2 separate regions of the Homo sapiens genome follow, and region 1 is linked to region 2. Evidence: fine-mapped expression QTL. A gene starts in region 2. The other region holds a variant in brackets. All regions are shown on one strand. Distances are from middle to middle.

The links. PIP is the estimated chance that this variant, and not a neighbour inherited with it, causes the effect.
Region 1: its variant is fine-mapped to the expression of ANKDD1B in whole blood (TOPMed, PIP above 0.99). The same link has a PIP of 0.9 or more in esophagus muscle and sun-exposed skin.

What each region holds. Positions count from the first base shown.
Region 1 is chr5:75,670,432-75,681,064 of GRCh38, forward strand. ANKDD1B (ankyrin repeat and death domain containing 1B) reads left to right here. Exons shown (of 14, transcript NM_001276713.2): 14 at 548-1,415. The coding sequence ends at 609. POC5 (POC5 centriolar protein) reads right to left here. Exons shown (of 12, transcript NM_001099271.2): 11 at 7,343-7,519; 12 at 3,693-4,147. The coding sequence ends at 4,004. Among named protein-coding and RNA genes, the nearest start is that of POC5, 42 kb to the right of the region's middle. The variant G/A (reference allele first, on the strand shown) is at 4,594.
Region 2 is chr5:75,606,858-75,617,490 of GRCh38, forward strand. It overlaps ANKDD1B (ankyrin repeat and death domain containing 1B), which reads left to right and starts at 4,596. Exons shown (of 14, transcript NM_001276713.2): 1 at 4,596-4,970; 2 at 9,947-10,050. The coding sequence starts at 4,778. It overlaps POLK (DNA polymerase kappa), which reads left to right. Exons shown (of 15, transcript NM_016218.6): 15 at 1-3,134. RefSeq lists enhancers at 3,282-4,089, 4,090-4,896, 4,897-5,703.

The DNA.
Region 1 (10,633 bases), 64 kb after region 2:
TGGCCAAAGATTCATTCCATGAATCCAATTTTTCAGAAATTGATGATTCGGATGATTCAGACTATTCTGATGTTAGTTCTGTTTAGAAATAACTCCAAGAAGTTTGTATATTTGTTTTTCACAATGAAAATCAGATTTGCTTCAGCCTCAAAGAGCGTATTTATGTAAAATTGAAGAAGTGCTGGCAGTGAGCTGCACTTTTTTTTCTAAATGGGAAAAGGGTTAAATGTATTCTTCCTATGAAAGAGGTTCCATAAGAACTCTTAGAGAAGATGAAGATGCAGTCCACTGAACTGGCTAAGGGTATGTGTTCTGACGCAAGGCTGTGTGAGCTCACTCTTGAACTCCAAAGCTGACTGACTGGTTGTAAACCTCGAGCAAGTTCTATGACCTTCCTGTGACAACCTTCTCATTTATTAACTAGGAAAGAAAATAAAAATGTTTACTTCAAAGGGCTGTTGTGGGATTTAATGAATAATAGTGCCTGGTAGACAATCAGTGCTTTAAAAATTTTAGGTATTCATAAATGTTATCTTATTTTTTCCAGAAAAGACTCGTCATTTCAAAAGCAAAACTGACTCAAACTCCAAGAAATGTGTAGTTTCATAAATGCCTAAAGAAATTGTATTTACATGATTTTCCACTCAGCATTCAGTTCTTTTAATGCCATAAATTTCTTCTAGCAGTAGCACTGATTTTCAACTATGATGATGGTGGTGACAGGGAACTCTAACAGATGAAAGAAGAGTAATACCATGATACTTTTCAACCACTAAAAAGTCAAATATAGTTTTTTTTGCTGAGGGCAAGTTGTATGTGATTTTCCCATTTCTATCAATCATTTGATGTAATCCATGTAATAAGATAATCTAGGACGGTTTTGTATGTCATGTTTTTTTAAAAAACTCATGGGAGCAGCATCATGGTACAGTAAAAAAACAAGGGTTTTTATAATAGACAAATATGGTTTTGAACTTGGTTTTGCCACTTATTAGATGTGAACCTTTGGGCATGTTAATGTTGTTTACGTTCTTAGATCTTCAGTTTCCTTCTCTATAAACTGGGAGAGATGTCTATTTAATCCATAGGGTTGGAATGAAGATGAAGGGAAAATGCCTGTGTAGCCTCACGCCCATAGTACGGAAATCAACTGCTATTTCTCTTTCAGTAAGAGAAACTGGGTTTGGAATTTATAGTCATTGTTGACTTTAAATCACACATTTTGTGTAATATATTACTTAGGAAAGACCAGAAGTATGTACACCATTTTTTTTTTTTTTTAAATCTCTTGGTGATGTAATTACAGATGATTATTTTCTTTGTACTTTTGGGTACATTCCATTCTTTTTTTCACAAAGAACATGCATTATTTTTGTAATCTAAGAGTTATGAAATAAATGTAAAATTGAGTGTCAGTTTATGTGCACCTATTCATTGGAATTTAAGACTCTCCATTCTCAGATTCTGACTCTAAATTTACAAGGCACATACTAAAACCATAAGCAATTTCAATCCAGTTATTCTATCATGAATTTATAGTTTTATGTCTTTGTCTCATACTGATTATAAATGGCCCACTTAATCTTATGAATGTTTAAAACAGGTAATAGATTCACATGATTCCAAAACGTTTTTCAAAAACATATTGAGAAGAAGTATTGTCCCATCTGTTCTTCAGTATGGCCAGTTTCCACTGACCTCTCTTTCTCTATTACTGCTCCCCACCAGATTGGGGTAACCTCTTTATGCAAAAATAAACAAATATGAATATATACTATAACTGTGTCAAGTGTTAAACTGTTGAATTTACATTAACTTAGGCCAACACTAATTGCTTGGTGCTTTAGACAACATACATTTCTAGAGCTTAAAGCTTAAAAATATGTTTATAATATTCTTAATCACAACATTCATAATATTCACTTCAGTTTGTCCATATTGTTTTGGCTTGGATACTGAAAACCATTCCTAGTTGTAGTCTAGATTCCTCAAAAAGTAGAGCTTGTCTAAGACCGAAGTTTGTGTGCAACAACTTTTTCAGAAGTGTACATCCGGGGAAGGAGCGGAGGAGAAAGGGGAGTTGTCTAGGGAGGAGGGAGAGCAAGAACAAAGCGAATTACCTAAGTGGCCATCACTTGGTACAAGCATAACTGATTATTTAATCTTGGGCTACTCTATTCTGAGAGACATGATATACTAATGCATCTCAGGACAATTCATACAGGGAGAAGGAAGGAAGAATTGGTCTGTTTACCATAATGCCAAGTATTAATTCTGGGTTGCATGAGTGGGCTCCCCAGTGGAGCCTGCACTATCCTGACTCAACTGGGAGTGAACGGGGAAGCCCGGGAAGAGCACACACATGGAAAGGGCACGAGATGAGGTGCTTGTGGTTTGTGTTCATGAAAAGCTTGCTGAAGACCATGAGGGGTGGAGCTGTTTGTTTACCACAATGGTAGCTGGGCCAGAATCCAGAACAAGTGTTGTGTAAATATCTAATACCCTTTAAGAAACAGCCTAGTAATTCAGAAAGGCCTTAGGATTCTATTTGCCTATATCACATTTATTCTCTGATGTCCTGTGAACAATGTGAGGCAGCAAGAAAACCTATTTCCTATAATAAAAATTAGTGCAGAGAACTTATATTCAAATTAGAAGAGGCTTCAGATGATTAACTCCATCCACTCTGTTAAAAGAGATGGAAATTGAGGTCCTGGACAAACTCTTTAGAACCTGTTCATTTTTATGTATAAGTACTGTGAAATAGTAGGTAGATTTTATTCTTATTTCACAGATGAGGATCCAGAGATTCATTTAATTGTCTGGCCCACACAATCAGTCAGCAATGAAACCATTAGAAGCCAAGTCTTGTTCACCTAAATCAGTTCTGCCCAGATGGTTTCTTTGTATTGGCCAGCCATTGAAAAATTTCTGCCCAGGCCTAGGTTTGCTGAGTTGCTCAGGGCTACGCCACCACAGAACAGTGTTTAGATGTTCGGGGAGAACAAGGTAGGTTCAGTGCTGCAGAGTTTCAAATAATAAGGCGAGAAAGAACACCAGAAACAGGCTCATTCTAACAGGAAATTTCTGATACTTCTGTAACTCTAGTGCTAGTATTACAAATGTTTTCCCTTTTGGCATTAAAAAATGATTCATAGGTGTTGCCGTTTCCGTCTATTTTCAACTGTTGTTAGAGTCCTGGAAAAATGAAGACTAACATGTTAAAGCCACAAAAAACGGGGCCGCGCGTGGTGGCTCATGCCTGTAATCCCAGCACTTTGGGAGGCTCAGGCGGGCGGATCACTTGAGGTCAGGAATTCGGGACCAGCCTGGCCAACATGATGAAACCTTGTCTCTACTAAAAAAAGATACAAAAATTAGCCGGGCATGGTGGCTGGCACTTGTAATCCCAGATACTCGGGAGGCTGGGGCAGGAGAATTGCTTGAACATGGGAGGAGGAGGCAGTGAGCCGAGGTCACACCATTGCATTCCAACCTGGGTGACAGAGCGAGACTCTGTCTCAAAAAAAAAAAAAAAAAAAATCATTATTACACTTGGTCTTTTTTAAATTAAAAATAAAAATATCCTAGTTTCCACTAGTTCTAATACTTTGTTTTTAGTAAGGTTCCCTCTCAACACTTTGAGTGAATTACAGCTGTGTAATATTGGAAATGATTTAGTGTTTTATAAATAGTGAAAATAAATTTATATATTTTGATGCTGTAATCAGCAACAGGCTAAACATATTAAAGAAATAAAGTCCAGTTTCTTTTTTAATTTAAAAAAGTTTTACTTAATTGCTTAAATAAAAAATAACATTAAAATAATTTCTACATATAGTTACAAAGCATGGTAGAGCTTGAAAAAGCCTCTTGTAATTTTGAACAGATGAACATGATGTCTCCATGATGTTCTAACAATATGGAAAAGTTAAAACCAAAAGACTTCTAACCCTTGGTAAGACCAGAGGGATTAAAAGACCCCACTATGGACATATTCACTTTAGTCAACCACTTTTATGGAATGAACACTTGTGAGAGACTGGGTGTGAGCTGATCTGGTTCCAAGTGATCTGGAAGCTGAGGTACTACTTTCAGGATGAATGGTCCGGGGATATTTTGCTGCAGTTGCTTGAGGAATGGTTTGCTGAAAAGACAAAATTCTGCTTTAATAATATCCCAAGATTATGTATACTATGTATCATTTCATCATCTATCATCTATAATTTAACCCAATAAACATTTGTTAAGATCCAGTAGAAAGAAGCAATGAGTGGAGTGAAGCAGCTGTTAATTAGATGAGGCCTTTGTCTGTAAGGAACCCCTACCCAGTCTGACTGACATGTTCAACACCCACAGTGTAATATCAGAGCTATATCCACAAGGCTCATTAAGAAAGCCACGGCAGCCATTCCTCCAACAGGGCCAAGTGGAATCTTGTAATGTGTACAGAGGCTTTGTATACAGAGAGAAACTCTGTGGTGTCTGGAAGAGGGGTCAGCCCTGAGTCCTCCCCTCATTCCATCCAACTTCCTTCTCTCTACTTGACTGTTAGTATGTGGATGTGATTATCTCACAATCCCAGGGGCACAC[G/A]GAAGCCCTCAGGATGCAGTCTGGTCCTTGCTTTAAACCAGAGCCCTCATATTTAACCTGGTTCACCTGGGAGCAGACTAAAACTTTTATGCACATCACCTCAGAGCTCAAAGGAACACCTCAGACATGAGCACTGAGTCATTAAAGTCAGGACACACGTGACTTACTTGACACACATAATATGCATGTAATGCATGTAAGTACACACTATGTATACAAGTACACATTTACATGTAAACATGAACAATATGTATCAGTACAAGGCTTTTCCCTATTAAACCCGATAAAGCTTCTTAGTAGCCAGCAGTGGGATTTGTTATCAAGTTCTCAGTCCATATCACTGACTAGGACATGTCAATTTCTATTAGGGTCTTCCACTTAGAAAAGTCATTGTTAAAATAGTTTAAGTAAAATTACATGTATTTGGTCAAAACATTCACTATGTATTTAAAAAACTCCAAGCTGTAGTTTTTGCTTAAAAAAAGAATGAAACTTCTTAAAAACAAAAGATCCTGTCAGATTCCATTTTAAAAAGAACAGAACTCCTTTTTAAAGAAAAATAACTTCTTTTCTTAAAGTATCTTATAAAAACGTTTATTTGTACATAAACAACTGGATAACCATTATAAATAGGAGATACTCTTGCAACAGATAAGAAATTTTAGTTGCCAGTCACCTAATTAGTTGCCAGCCACTAACCTGAGCCTGCCAAAAAGGCTTTCTCCTTGAGGAGGATGGGCAAGAGGAACTGTAGAAATAAAGTAGCCACTGAAATTATGATACACAAAATATGACAGAGAATGAAGTGGCCCTAGAAGCATGCAGTTACCCAGCAGATGAGGCTACAGTGTCACAAATCGCATCCTTGGTTTTTTAGTAATAACTATTTCTGGTAGATTTAGATCTTGATTCCCAGGGTGAAAAGAAATACAGTACAAATGACTGCCACTGTGTCTGTCACATAATCCAGGCAGCTGATGGCTATCTGGTTCATACACAGTTAGTGGGTAAGAAATGCACATACTGAATAAAGGGAGGGCAGCATGGGAGATAAGTATCAGAAACAAGGGTTCTAAATGTTTAGTACTTTGATTTTTCTTCTGTAAAATATGAATTCCCATCATTACTACAAAACAAAAGCTTGTCTAATAAAAAATAAACACACATGTGCTCTCTTTACACCTTCTTTACCTCACAAATGGACAGTCTCTCACCATCTCTATACATTTTCTACATCTGAAAAAACAGAAGTGGGTTTATTTCTTCTCATTTTTGATAACTTGTCTTCCATATTCAAAAATATATAGAAAAGTCTTCTACGAACTTTCAGAGTCTGTCCAACTTATGAAACATGAAACCTAAGATAATTCTAAAATAAATCCTCTGTCATCTCCATGTCTCTATCTGGACTTGGTGCTTCTATCTCCAGCCTTCCACCTCGCTAAGGTCCCACTTCACCTGAAGTTCAGTTCAAATCAATCCAGCTTGTCTTCATTTAATCATCTAGTGCCCAGCTAGTACTCGGGAAAAAAGGATTTAAAATCATTCCATATACTTTTTTTTTGCTAATACTTAGAAAGTACACAGGAACGTTGTCCGATGCTGAGAATTTATAGAGGGCATTCTCTTTTAAAATCAGTCCCTGAAATCAGCTGGGGGTGGTGGCGGGTGCCTGTAATCCCAGCTACTCGGGAGGCTGAGGCAGGAGAATTGTTTGAACCCAGGGGGCGGAGATTGCAGTGCGCCAACATTGCGCCATTGCACTCTATCTAGCCTGGGAGACAAGAGAGAAACTCTGTCTCAAAAAAAAAAATAAATAAAAAATAAATAAATAAATAAATAAATAAATCCTTGTTTTTCTTTAGGGATGTTCTTATCACTCTTATTATACTTTTTGAGATAATTGTTGATTCGTACACATTTGTAGGAAATAATTCAGAGATATCTCATGTATCTTTTTCTAGTAACTTTCAGTAAGTTAAATTTGCTTATGGTTTTATAGTTTATAAAATGCCTTAATACATCTCGTTTAATTTTCACATTATCTCATTTAATCTTGAATCCTAACAATAACCCAAGGAGCTAACTATTTTTATTAACCCCATTTTACAGAAGAGAAAGTGGAGGCTCAAATATTTTACTTGATTTGTATATATCACAAAGCCAACAAGTAGCAAAGCTGAAGCACTAACTCGGGTTTTAAAATTTTTGCTTCAAATTCAATGCACCTTCTTTATATCACATGCATTTACTGCAAGTTGAATTTTGTTAAACTAAAAACATGCTGACAATTGTACTGAAAAAAGGGGAAGACTTTTTTTAAAAAAGGACCAAAAATTAAAAACTATAAATGTAGGGGAGTTTTCTTGTAATCAAATATCTGCTACATGAGCAGCTAGTGAGTGAACAATTTTTGTCTCTTTTTAAACTGATAATAAAGCATTTACATATTTTACTCTTTTGACCACAAACACACTGGATTACTTTTAGTATTTTATAATTTTTACAGTTTGGAAGAAACGATGTTTCTGAAATTAATTTCCCAACAGCAGAAACGTAGATTTATAGCAGGTTTGAGAAAAACAAGTATATATATTAAAAAAAAAAAAAAAACTGTAACAGGAAAAGGCAGAACAAGTACCAGTCATCATAAATTTTTATCTTCTCAACATGTTATGTAAGTGTTTACTAGTCTATGAACTCTCAGGAAAAAGACTTTTTGACAAAAGGTCATCAAATGTGGACTCACCACTGTGACTGGATGATGTTTTTCCACAACAACTGAGCTCATGGGAGGAGAAACTCCCATTATAGCTAAACTGCTGCTAATTCTATTTTTTGAAGCAAAATCACATCTTCCTGTGATCCGGGCTGTAATAGTTCTTCCTGCTTTCTGTTGTGCAGAGGTTACAACTCTTGGCACATACTAAGAAGAAAAAAAAATAAAAGAAGTAACAAGGTGGCAGAAAATCCACAGCAAAATCTATTGATTCCATAAATTATGAAGAATACACAGGCACTTAAAATAACTGTATGTTCAACCAACTTTAACATGGAAAAAACAAAATCACAAGACGAAAAGCAAAACAAAACTGAACACCCCAAAATATCCCTTTAACCTGAGTATGCCAACGATTTTATAAGATTTTAGAAACTTAAAAAACCAACTTTTTTTTTTTAAATGATAGATTTATAGAAAGACACAGAGATCATATTGAAAAGTACTGTGTGCTCTTCACCCAGTTTCCTGCCATGGTTACATCTGACATAATTAGAATATAACAAAGTCAAAACCAGGAAGCTCACCATGAGATAATGCCTGTGTATAGATCTCTGTCATTTTATCACCTAAGTTCCTGTTAACTATCACTCAATCAAGATACAGAATACTCATCACCACGAAGATCTCCCTCGTGCCACCCTTGACAGTCATATCCATCTCTCTGTTCCTTCCCCAACCATCCTTAACCTCTGGAAACCATTAATCTGTTTTATGGACTCTTTGATCCTTAAGCATAATTAATATTATCATTACACATATGCTTCTGTGTTCTGCCTTTTTTCCTTCTCATTTTATTAATATACTTTTTTTTACGAGGTAATACAGAGACCTGCTATAGTTCTTAATGAGATGGTTTTTATACCAACATACTACTTTGTCTTTCTTTTTCTATTACATTTAGCACATTTTGCAAAAGAAAAATCCTCTTTTGAGAGTTACTTCTGTATAATAAAAATATATTGCAAACAATGGAACGATCATATCAAAAAGTATTATCAGCTTTTATAGCTTTTGCTGCTTATCGCTGGATAATACTCCAGAAAAATATTTACAGCAGGAATAACACGTAAGTGGACTATTTTTCCACTGTCAATCAATTACACAGCCGCCTGTTTAAGTCTGAGGTGAAATCTACTATTCAAGTTGTGGTTCTTTATTAATGTTTCATATTTGTATTCCATTTTGTCAACTATTCATCTTATTTGCTAAGAATTGAAAGGATATTAATATTTAAATTTAATAGTTCCTGACGAGTACTAAACTCATTTAATAATTATAGATACTTATCTCAGAGTGTAAACGATTTCCCCATTTCATGTATTTGTCTTAATTTTCAATGCACATCCATTTTTTTAAGTTGTGGTTAATCCTGTCATTAATTTCCTCTTGCTTCCATGATGAAACCAAAACCAGCTTTGGACAGCTGAGGTAGTTATATTCTTATAACATTTACTTATTTTGGCTTAGCTTATTAAAACATTTGAAATTCCAGTGTGAAGTATTAATCTAAATTCATTTTTTCTCTAAACAGTTTTTCCAAAGGCATTTATTAAGTATCAATCTTTTCCCGATTATTATAGTTCATCTGTGATTCTCCATATAGCTGCATCTAGCTACACACAGTCACAGCTGTATACTGAAATGGGAAGAGAGTGGGCTTCAGGAGAGATGTCTCTGGGAAAATTAAAATGACAGAGTATTGATGTTTTTGGAAGACCCTATGGAAAACAGCATTCAGTGGGGTTTTGTAATCCTTGGAGAGTTTGGAAATAATTCACTATAGTTGGATAGAAAACCGAAGATAAAAATGAAGCAATTAATTCTAAGAACAAAACATTATACCAGAAAGGAAATGTAGTCATAGTACACATTCATGGCTTAGCTATATTAGTAATCATAAATGATTTAATCTGAAATGGGAATATCTATAACATACAGGGAGGATAAGGAAAGTGAAGAGAGAGAGAAGGAATAAGGTGGCATCAGGAGGCCAAGTCCTCTTATCTGTAATAAGTTAACAGATAATGTTTGAAATTAATAAATGTAGAAATAATGATATAAACATACTATTTAGGAAAAAATGGAAACAGAAGAAACAGCTAACAGAGTTAGGGAGAGGAATTTAGAAGACTGTTTCTCACTATAGTCCTTGTAAAAATGATTTGGCTTTTTAAACCATAAACTTCTATGGATCTTATGAAATTGAAAAACTAAATCTCAGATTTAAAAATATTTACAAATATGTTTTTGTGGACTAAATTCATGCTTCTGGCCTGAGGGAAACTTTGTCCTATTACTTATTACAATAAGGGACAAAAAAGATTTTACAAACTCCTGAAGATGCTTAAATGCTATTTCAAAATAGAAAACTAATTGCTGGCAGGAATATTCTTTGCCAAAATGTGGAAATAAGTACAATTGAGTTTGTAACTTTCCTCCTGCCCAATCACGCTTGAGGGGTGTCCTCTCAGTAGCCATGATTCTCACCTGGAGCTTCAGGTGTGAATGAAAAACTAGAGAAGTCTGGACTGAAGAAAATTAGAGTAGCAGGAAAAATGCTCATAGATGATAAGCTTCATTCAACCCAGCTCAGAATTGCTTTAGAATGCCTTCAATAATTTGAAAATATATACTCCTGTAAATAAAATGACTTCTAAAAGACTTCTAAAAGAAATCTCTATACGCTCATTGAATTAAATAGAAGTTGTCTTAAATGGCTCGCATGTTTACTGTCGGCTGCTTGTTTTCAGATGGTTTGTCACTTGTACTTGTTAATGTTTATTTAATGTATTAAAAATTGTATAAATTGATGAAAAAGTTGAAAATGCATAAGGACAATTTAGAAATAATTCATAAAGATAAATTATTAGAAAAAAGTTGCTACTAATCAGGGGGAGGAAAGAAAAACCTAGAAGGATTCTCTAATCAGATTGTTTGGAAAGTTTTGTTAGGTTCATGCTTTACAGAAACTGAAATTGGAGATCATAGAAAATATATTGGGTGTGGTTTATATTAAAAAGATGACAATTACAATCTTTGACCCCACATTCAGTTTGGCTCCACATTTAAAACCAGCAAATTAATACATATTTATGTTTTAGGATAAAATAATGCATTAGGTATGTATCATTCTCTGCAAATTAAATGACCACTTACTGGTACCAATCATGTTGGAGTTCATTAAATTTATCAGCTTAGCTGACTTTAAAAAATGCTATAAAAATAAAAATTCTAGCATTTTAAGCCACATCAACATAA
Region 2 (10,633 bases):
ACCATAAACCAGTACACATGTAGGCTTGTAATCTGAATTCACACAAATGGTATCATCCTAAAGAGCTCAAGCAGAAAATGTAATTAAAGTGAGGTTAGTATTGCCCCTAGTGACTGGCAGAAGCATATGCAAATCCTCTATGGAAGAACTCAACTTCAATTCAGGCAGACAACTTAGTATCTCAATTAAAAAGATGTGATAATGTGAAAAATAGGTGTTACAGAATTGATGACTACAATGTATCTCCCATCCTTGAAGCTCACACCCTCCCAGCTAGGGGTAGCCATGTGACTGAGTTTTGACTAATGGGATATAAAAGGAAGTACTGGCCGGGTGCGGTGTCTCACGCCTGTAATCTCAGCACTTTGGGAGGCCAAGGCGGGTGGATCACCTGAGGTCAGGAGTTCGAGACCAGCCTGGCCAAGATGGTGAAACCCCGTCTCTACTCAAAATACAAAAAAGTAGCTGGGCGTGGTGGCACACACTTGTGATCCCAGCTACTCAGGAGGCTGAGGCAAGAGAATCGCTTGAACCCGGGAGACGGAGGTTGCAGTGAGCTGAGATTGCACCACTGCACTCCAACCTGGGTGACAAAGCGAGACCTTGTCTCAAAAAAAAAAAAAAAAAAAGGAAGTACTGTGTGTGGTTGCTTCTGGGAACCTTCCTTTCTTGCAGCTGTAGCATTCTGTTTGCCTCTTCTTTCTATTTCTCTGTTCCATCCTGCTGCCTGGAAGCAGATGCTGCCGTTTACACCTGAACATAAGGGTTGCACAGGGGGATGGTAGAGTAGTGGGCTGCAGGGGCTGATTCTTGGGGCTTTGTAAAACAGAGACATATCAGCACTGGCCTGCACACTTTGAGACTTTCACAAGAAACAAATTAAAAAATTGTTTAAGCCATAGTTACTTGGGTTTTCCTATTAATTATAGCTGAATCCTAGCTGATAAAGGACATAAAGATTATTAAGACATGTTTGTCCTCAAAAAATGGAGAGCCACCCCAGGGACAGTTTCTATTCAATGTAGGGAGGGCTATAATAGATGAATATACAAAGTGGGAGTCTAGGGAGAAATCGTCTGGTAGAGGAGGGCAAAGAGAAATCTAGGAAGATGTTTTTAAAAATATGGAATCCTTGAACAGGACCTGGTTTTAAAGGTTTACTTCAGAATTGAACATATTTTTTTAGTCTAGACCTTTAGGGGAAAAACTTAAAGCTTTCAGGACTCAAAGACAAGTTACTGTTCCCATGGCTAAATTGCATTCCATATTTATTTGACAAATACTTATTGCAGGTCGGGTACTGTTTTAGCCACTGGAGATGCAGTAAGAAACTTAATTAATTTTTTTTTTTTTTGAGACAGAGTCTTGCTCTGTCACCCAGGTTGGAATGCAGTGACATGATAACAGCTTGCTGCAGCCTTGACCTCCGTGGCTCAGGCCATACTCCCATCTCAGCTTCCCAAGTAGCTAAGACTACAGGTCTGCCCCACCACCACCAGCTAATTTTTAAATTTTTTGTGGAGACTGGAGTCTCACTAAGTTGCCCAGGTTGGCCTCAAACTCCTGGCCTCAAGCCATCCTCCCACTTCGGCCTCTCAAATTGCTGGGATTATAGGCATGAGACACCACGCCTGGCCCAACAAAGTTTTAAAAATCACTGTATTTATGAAGTTTACATTCTAGTTGTGGAAACCGACACTAAACAAATAGACATTTCAGTGGTAAGTGTTACAAAGGAAAGAGACAACAGCATAAGGGAATGGAACATGAAGGTAGGGGACACTTTTAGAATAAGATGATCCGAGAAGGCTCCTCTGAGGAAGTGACATTTAACCTGAAACCTTAATGATACGAAGGATCAAAACTATTTTAAAAATTCGGAAGTGGAGGTGGGGGAGAGAAGTTCTAGGCAAAGGGAGGAAATAGAAGCTGATGGCTCTCCACCAGGAAACAGTGGATGAAGAATGGAGAAGAATTGTAGGGCCCAAGATCAGAGAGATGAGTAGGGCCAGATCATGTGGGCAAGCTTTTATGTATTAGCACGCTTAGAATTAATATTCTGCTTGAGAACTAACCTGATATTTGAAACAGAGTGAAAAAGAAAATACCTCCCACAGTATACTTCATAGCTTCTTATTTAGCCCAAGCTGTCAGGGAAATAAAGTCCAGCTATGGCTAAGTTTCACATAATGCACTGCTTTGGAGTTTTTGTCTCATCTGTTAGAGTAAGATAAGTACCACATACTATTATAAGGCTATATAGCATAAAATGATGATGCATTTTCTCCTGTCATTGATAAGAGGATTTTTTTAAAAGTAAATTTCTTGGTTTAGAATTTGAAAGCAGTTTCAAACTTGGATAACACAATTCAGATCTTTTTTTAAAATTATTTTTTATTTATATTAAAAAAAAATTTTTTTTTTGAGATAGGGTCTGGCTCTATCACGCAGACTGGCACACAGTGGCACAATCTTGGCTCATTGCAACCTCTGCCTCCCAGGCTGAAGCCATCCTCCCACCTCAGCCTCCCAAGTAGCTGGGACTACAGGCATGCACCACCATGCCTGGCTAATTTTTGTAGAGAGGGGGTCTCACTTTGTTACCCAGACTGGGAGATTTTTCTGTACTTGGCTGTATGCTTTCCATTGATCTGCTGCTGTTTTCACTATTATTCCTTCTTTTGTGTGGGTATTTTCTTTTGATTTTTAGAATTTTACTTGTAAACATGCTACATATACATATAATTTGGTGCCCTGTTTTTCCATTTACATATTATACTTTCCATATTAGTACATTGTCTGATATTTCTGCATAATACTCAATTCAACTTACCTGCTATTGTTTTTATCATATCTCTATTACAAACATTAGGCCCATTTCCCTTTTTTAAAAGAGGAAAGTTTGAGGTTATGGGCGGTGTTCTGATAAAATAAATAATATTTTGTCATGTTTGTTTTTTCATTGATTAGGAAACATTGTTTTGAATTTAATGCCTCAAATTTGGTGCACAATAATTTGAAGGGAAAAACTGACAAGTTTGAAATGAACATTGATATTACATAATTTACATTAAAATGATACATCTTTTGTAAATTTGTAAGAAGAATAAATAAATGAAAACCTGATTACCTTTCTTATTTGAAGTTTATTTGGGGGGTCAGAATTTGACTTGCTTCTGTATTATTTCACTTTTCAAAAGAATCCGCCAGGAAAGATTAAAATTCATGGTCTTCAAATGAGAAATCAAGTCTTACTTTATTCAAAAGAAAATGTTGGAAGCCCATTTAGAAATGATTTAATATTGAAGTTCCTATAGTGTTAGTTATAAATTCAACCTTGACATTTCTCAAAATTATACAAAGAAGTGGTAGAGTAGAGCTGGGAGTTCATTGGGGCTTGTAGATTTTGCAGGAATTTTTTTTTTTAATGTGTTAAAACAAATTTTATTTACAATAACAGGCAGCAGCGGGATTTGGCCTGGGGATGGAGCAAAGTGACCCCCTGCTGTAGAGCAAGGTGAGTGAGTCACGCCCTTGACAACACATTCTTAGAAGTCATGCTCGTTAGGGGCAAGTTCTGTTTCTTCCACCAACGTCTTCAAGCCTCAGAATCCTTTTCTATCAAACGGGGCTAATAATAGAATACACCATACCTCAGAATTAAGTGAGGCTGTGCAAAAGGTGCTTAATTCTGTGCCTGAAATGTAGCAACAGACAATAAATCCATCTAACAACAAATTCTTATGAAGAAGGTATTACAATAAATTCTTATGAAGAAGTTATTACAATAAATTCAGTGACAAGCAATGATGGCAATGGAAATAAAAATGGAGAAGCAGATGTAATTAAGAGATTTGAGAAGTAAAATTGGCAGTTCCTGGTGACTAAAGCATGTGTTAATGATAGTGATAGTGATATCCTTGGACCATTAGTTGTTCAGCTTTGAATACCCTCCCCAATTTCTCTGCTTATTCTTTTTTTTTTTTTTTTTAGTATTTATTGATCATTCTTGGGTGTTTCTCGGAGAGGGGGATGTGGCAGGGTCATAGGATAATAGTGGAGAGAAGATCAGCAGATAAACACGTGAACAAAGGTCTCTGGTTTTCCTAGGCAGAGGTCCCTGCGGCCTTCCGCAGTGTTTGTGTCCCTGGGTACTTGAGATTAGGGAGTGGTGATGACTTAACGAGCATGCTGCCTTCAAGCATCTGTTTAACAAAGCACATCTTGCAGCGCCCTTAATCCACTTAACCCTGAGTTGACACAGCACATGTTGCAGAGAGAACGGGGTTGGGGGTAAGGTTATAGATTAACAGCATCCCAAGGCGGAAGAATTTTTCTTAGTACAGAACAATATGGAGTCTCCTATTTCTACTTCTTTCTACACAGACACGGTAACAATCTGATCTCTCTCTCTTTTCCCCACATTTCCCCCTTTTCTATTCGACAAAACCGCCATTGTCATCATGGCCCGTTCTCGATGGTCGCTGGATGTTTTATTTTCCAGAGAACCAAACCTTAGCACTGTGCACGCCACACCTGAGGGCGGATTATCCCAGGCCAGCCCAAGTCAGGGCAGGGCTGGAAACTAGGGGCTTGTTGCCCAGCGAACCGCCACAACAGAGAGCGGACTCGATCCTGCGCTCCGGCCGGGCTGACCTGCCTGCGTCCAGCCCCCGCGCCCTGGGCCTGCCTGGGTCTGGATCTGTGTCCGAGTCTGGGTCTGGATCTGGGTCCGAGTCTGGGTCTGGCCCTGCGCTCAGGGCCCGCGGAGGAGACTATGGACCCCGCCGGGCGCGCCCGGGGCCAAGGGGCCACGGCAGGGGGGCTGCTGCTCCGGGCTGCTGCGGCCGCCAAGGGTCTCAGGGAAGACCTGTGGGGCGCGGCCGCCCTGCCTTGGAGGAGCCTGTCCCGGATCCCGAAGCGGGAGGGTCTTGGAGAGGAGGACACAGCAGTTGCCGGACACGAGCTCCGTGAGTCCCGGGACGAGGTCTCAGAAAATCAGGCTGCGGGGCGGGCTGGGTCGAAGGGACTTGAGAAGGTACCCAGAGCAGCACCTCCGGACGCTGCAGGAGGGAAACTGGCGAGGCGACTCAGCCCTGGGACCCCGAGTCCCAGCCTGCACCGCTGCACTCCCTGTTGGCTGGTTTTCAGCTTTGGAATCCACCCCCACCATGTACTGTGGGTGGAAGGACAGTATTATTCTTCCGAATTAAGGAGGAGGCTTTTAAAAATAATGATTAAGTCCTTTTGCAAATAAGAGTTTCATGTGCTCTTATCTCCTATATCGTGACTCATGCTCCGATTTATTGTCTGACTTTAAATAAGTCAGTCACTTAATCTTTCTGCACTTAAGTTTTTAAAGCATGGAGTGGATCATCTATGCCTTGGGAATAATGTGTAGCATAAACTGAGGCAGCTGTTAAGCAGTTCGAAAGCTGAAAGCGATTTAAGTCTGCCCCCGCCCCCCCCCGCCCTCCGCCCCGCCCCCGCCCTCCGCCCCGCGTGTAGGGTCTTGTTGCTCTGTTGCACAGGCTGGAAGGCAGTAGTGCAATCACAGACCTCCTCAGGCTCAGGTGATCCTCCCACCTCAGCCTTCCCAGTACTCAAGCCTCTTAACGGGGCACACCATCCAAGCCTACTGGCTGGGACGGCCTTATTTCCTAAACCAGGCTTGGAAGCTATACACCAATTCATCAATATAGTGTTCATTCAGTCATTCTAGAACTATTTTCAAGGGCTTAACTATTTGCTAGGCATGTTCTAGATGTAGGGTTGGAGAGAACAAGACAACCCCTGTTCTGGTGGAACATTCTGTTGTGGTGGAGGGGTGATAGACAATAAAATAAGTACGCAAATAAATGAATAAGATAATTTAAGGTAAGTGCAGTGAAGGCCATGAGACAGGGTAATGTGGTTGGAGTCAGGCTGCCTGGGACAATTCTATAACTTACAAAGCATGAGCAAGTGGTATAACTTTTGAAGATCTCAGTTTCCTCATCTGTAAAATGGAGGAATCATGCCTACATCAACAGATTATTTGTTTTATATAAACCCTAGGGCATTCTAATAGTTGGAGATCAAGCAAAGGAAAAAGAGCCAGTAGAAAAGACTAGAAAGCGAAAGTTGGTTTACCAGACCTCTAGAGAAGAACATGTTACATGGAGTGTGTGTTCCTCTGTGTCAAAGTTGCCAAGAGCTCAATGCACATGACGGAGGTATGATGACTGGGTTTTGGCAAGGCGGAGTGACCTCAACAAGAGCAGTTTCAGTAGAGGGGTGGGAAAGATGTCTGATTAGCATGGGTTGAGACAAGACTGTGAGATGAAGAAATGGAGACAGCAATTATAGAATACTTAAGTTTGGGGTAATGGAAAGTTGAAAAATGCAGCAGCAGTTGGAAAGGAAGCTGGGGTCAAGGGAGGGTTTTTTATGCATAGGGTATTATGGCATCTCAGTATTTTTTGAGGGGAGTGATCCACTGGAGAGAGATTAAGTGATCTAGAGGAAAGAAGAGATAATTTCCAGGAGATTGACATATGAAACACTTGAAAAGATAAAAGGGGATGGGATCCAGAGCCCAAGTGTAGAGGTTGGCCTTTCCTAGGTACAGGGATGCTTCATCCTGCATATATAAATGAAGGTAGGTTGGTAGACTCACCTAGGTGGGAAGATGTGGGAATTCGTGTCCTATTACTTCTGTTTTCACTATGAGGCAACGGTATTAACTGAGAATTAGGTGATGGTAGTGGGAGGAAGTAAATTACGTAGATTAGTAAATTCAGATATTTGAGGAGAAAGGAAAGGATATGACATGTTGAAGAAGGGAAGACTAGGGAAATGTAGAGGCTAGCTAGTCGTGCTGAGATTAGTGGGGAAGAATTTAAGAGACCTGTTAGCATGTGTATCAGTCAGGACAAAGTAAGCTTTTCCTGCAGCAATAAATGACTCCTACATCTGAGTGACTGGACTTAAAAACGATCTATTTCTGACTGGGTGTGGTGGCTCACACCTATAATCCCAGCATTTTGGGAGGCCAGGTGAGAGGATCACTTGAGACCAGGAATTCAAGACCAGCCTGGACCACGTAACGAGACCCTGTCTTTACATTTAAAAGAAAGATATATTTCTTGTTCGTGTAGCATGTCCAAAATAAGTTGGCGAGGGTCTCTCATCTTCTTAGTCTCTCAGGAACCCAGGTGTCAAGGATCATAAAGGGGTTGAGATTTTACCCTACTTGTAATCTCACAAGTTAGCTTGCTAGGTGATAGAGATGCTGGCAGAAGACACTTCTGGATCAGAGTTGATGAATTTCATTACTCATAGCAGTAGCAGTAGCCAGAGTGTTAGCATTTGTGTCAGTTCTCCAAGCCCCAATTCCCACAGGGAGATATAAAGATGCCAAATGACACCTGCACACACAGTGGGTTGTGTTACAGAAAAATCCTGCGCTTAGGGAACCCAAATCTTTTGTAATAGTCAGTAAGCATGCCTTACCATTGCTTTCTTCCAAGGCTGCAAGCAAACCTGCCCTTTGCTCCAGAGGAAGATATTATCTCTGTCTGTCAAGGCTTTTCACTATACAAACATCCTTGAAAAGGTAGTAAAGAGCAAAGCCAGTCAGTGCTTTTGCTTGTAAGATGTGCAGAAATGTGAGAGACCCAGGGAGAATTGTGTCCCAATACCAAGTTGATGGAGGTACCACCATCTTGTAACCCCTTCATTTAAACACATGGCTTCCAGTGTTGATAAGGCAGGGAAAAGAGACCTAGAGGGTGACACAGGCTTTTCACTGACTCAGCCCCAAAGTGACATGCCATCACTTGTGCTTTCAGTCCATTGGATACACCTCAACTATCCAGGCTGGGTTATGGGCTTACACATGTGACCAGGTAGAAGAGAAGAAGCAGATATTGATGAACACTAGCAATGTCTACTACAGTATGGCTGTGTGTTTTTCTCCAGTACCATTTAGCTGTTCAGGTACAGAAACAAAGCAAGTAGCAGTTGGATTTAATCTCAGAATTAGGATTCTGACCAACTAGTCTAATGGAGGAAAAGAATGGTGAGGGAGGTAAGTGTTTGCATAGAAGTGATTTCATAGGTGGACCATGTGCTATGGTCTGAATGTGCAAAATAAATTTCTGTTTTTTTAAAATTACTTAGTGTCAGGTATTTTGTTATGGCAGCAAAAACAGACTGGCACCATGGAATCTAAACATGGTAAGGAGGGAAGTAAGGACATAGAGATGAAGAATATGAAAAAGGGCTAGAACTGTGGACTGGAGGACTTCATAAGGTTGCAGAATTTCTGGACTTGGAGAACTAGAGCAGCTGAGCTGAATGGATGAGAAGTTGTGGTCAAAGAATAGGATTCTGGAAGTCAAGATTTCAGAGGTAGTGCAGTTTGAGGGATGATTAGTTCAGGAATGTGTCTCTGAAATTTGATGGCTAAGGTCAGATCTGGGGAAGATTATTAGAGGTGACAGAGTCAGGGAACTAAGAGGCCAAGGTGTTGGATTAATCATCTGTGAGGAGGTTGAAGTCACCTAGAATGGTGACAAGAGTAGGGGTAGGAACGAAGAGAAGGATCCAGGTAATAGAAAGAATGAACATGTGAATCTGCATGAGTCTACTCAGGCTGCCACGACAAAGTACAGCAGACTGGATGGCTCAAACCACAGACAATTATTTTCTCACAGTTCTGGAGGCTACAAGTCCAACATCAAGATGTTGGAAAAGTTCAATTCTTCTTAGGCCTCTCTCCTTGGCTTATAGATGGCCACCTTCTCCCTGCCTTCACCTGGTCTTCCCTGTGTGTGTGTGTGTGTGTGTGTGTGTGTGTGTGTCCTAATCTCTCTTCTTATAGGGACACCAATCATTATCAGATTGGAGCCCATTTATATGACCTCATTTTACCTTAATTACCTCTTTAAAGGCCCTATCTCCAAATATAGTCAACATTCTGAGGTACTTGGGGTTAGGACTTCAACATAGGAATTTTGGAGGGACACAATTCAGCCCATAACAATATTTCCCAAGAAGATACTCCTTGGTTGGTCCTTGATTGGACTTGGCAGTATCCTGAAAGGTCTTTGCTTCGGCAAAAACTTGGGGAACATTGAATGTTATGATGGTACCATTTAAAAAACAAGGAAACCCTTAGGAAACTAATCCACAACACATCTACAGAAACCTCTCTTACGGTCCTTTCTGTTTGGAGATGGTATGTTATTGACTCCTACTTAACCTCAATTCTGGTCTTACCCCTTATGTTGGGCTGTCCTCTGAGAGCCCTCTACTCCCCTACATAACAAAAAACTCAATAAACCCTGGAATCTTCTCTGTGATAGTTAATAAAGCCTACCATATGAATGTGTATATGTGTGTGAAATGTGATGTTTATAGTAGATGTCAATCTACTTCTATGTGTTTTTATATAAATGAGAATAAAACATTTTAATCCCCTTTAACTTTGTGTCTGTATGTATGATGGGCTGCATTTTGAAATCTTCATGCAGGCCTGGCCTCGGTATAGAGTTCTGAAGACAACAGTTTTATCTCTGTAAGCTGTAGGAGCATTTGGACTCCTCCCTGCCTAATCTTGTACAAGGTTTTTTACAAACAATGCCCCCTGGGAAGTCTATGGCCGCCTTCTGACCTTCTAAGCCAGATACCAGGTTACTGACTTCAGGGTGGTCCTCATGAATAATGTTTTGTTTGGGGCCAGGAACATTTTTAAGGATGTGAAAGCGCTTGCAGCATGAGGAGAAAATGAAATCTTGATACTACAGTTTTGTAAGATATTGAAGCGAAGTTCCCATGTCTTAAATAAAACAGCAAAATGTGAAAGACTCAAAGCTGTTGTTACAAGGTTTGCCCTATGAAATATGCTTTCTCTTTGGCCTCCTTAAATTCCCTCAGTCATGCTTGCTTTGCTTTCTTTCAGTACTCCCAAATGAGAGAAGCTTTCAGAATGCTGCTAAAAGCAATAATTTGGATCTTATGGAGAAGCTGTTTGAAAAGAAGGTTAACATTAATGTTGTGAACAATGTGAGTAGAAGTCATAAATATGACAAGTGACTTCTCCAGTAATGGCTTGGATTTACACAGGACATCTGAAATAATAATAAAAATAAAAATCATGGTGCTGGCTGAGATAAGGGAGAGCTGCTTTGTTGGTAATCCCGGGGTGTTTAAGCTAAAAGGTGGAGTCAAACAGTGGAAGAGGCTCTGGGTGTTTTAATTCCTCTTCCAAGAAGGGGAGTGCACAGAATCTTCATGCCTATCTGTTCAAAGTCTGTGGGTGGGCAGTAAAGCCAGCTGTCAGGGTTGCAGGCCCGGACTTGGTCCTGGATTGTCGCCTGTGGATCAGTTTGGCCTCACACATTCTGGAAAGGCAGAACATTTTTTTGCTATACAATCTGGGTTGTTTTCTTGCCAATGATGTCCTTTGTGGTTCTGTTTTTCCAAATTTAAAAATCTAAAGAGGCGTGTGGATTTTCATTATACTGGTTTTGAAATGTAGTGCGTCTCCCTCTTGGGCAATGAGGCCTTATCTAAAACCTGGCTCTTACTTGTTCTTTAAGTGCCGGGTTTTAGCGGAGGGAAAGTCCACTGCCATAAATTTGGATTC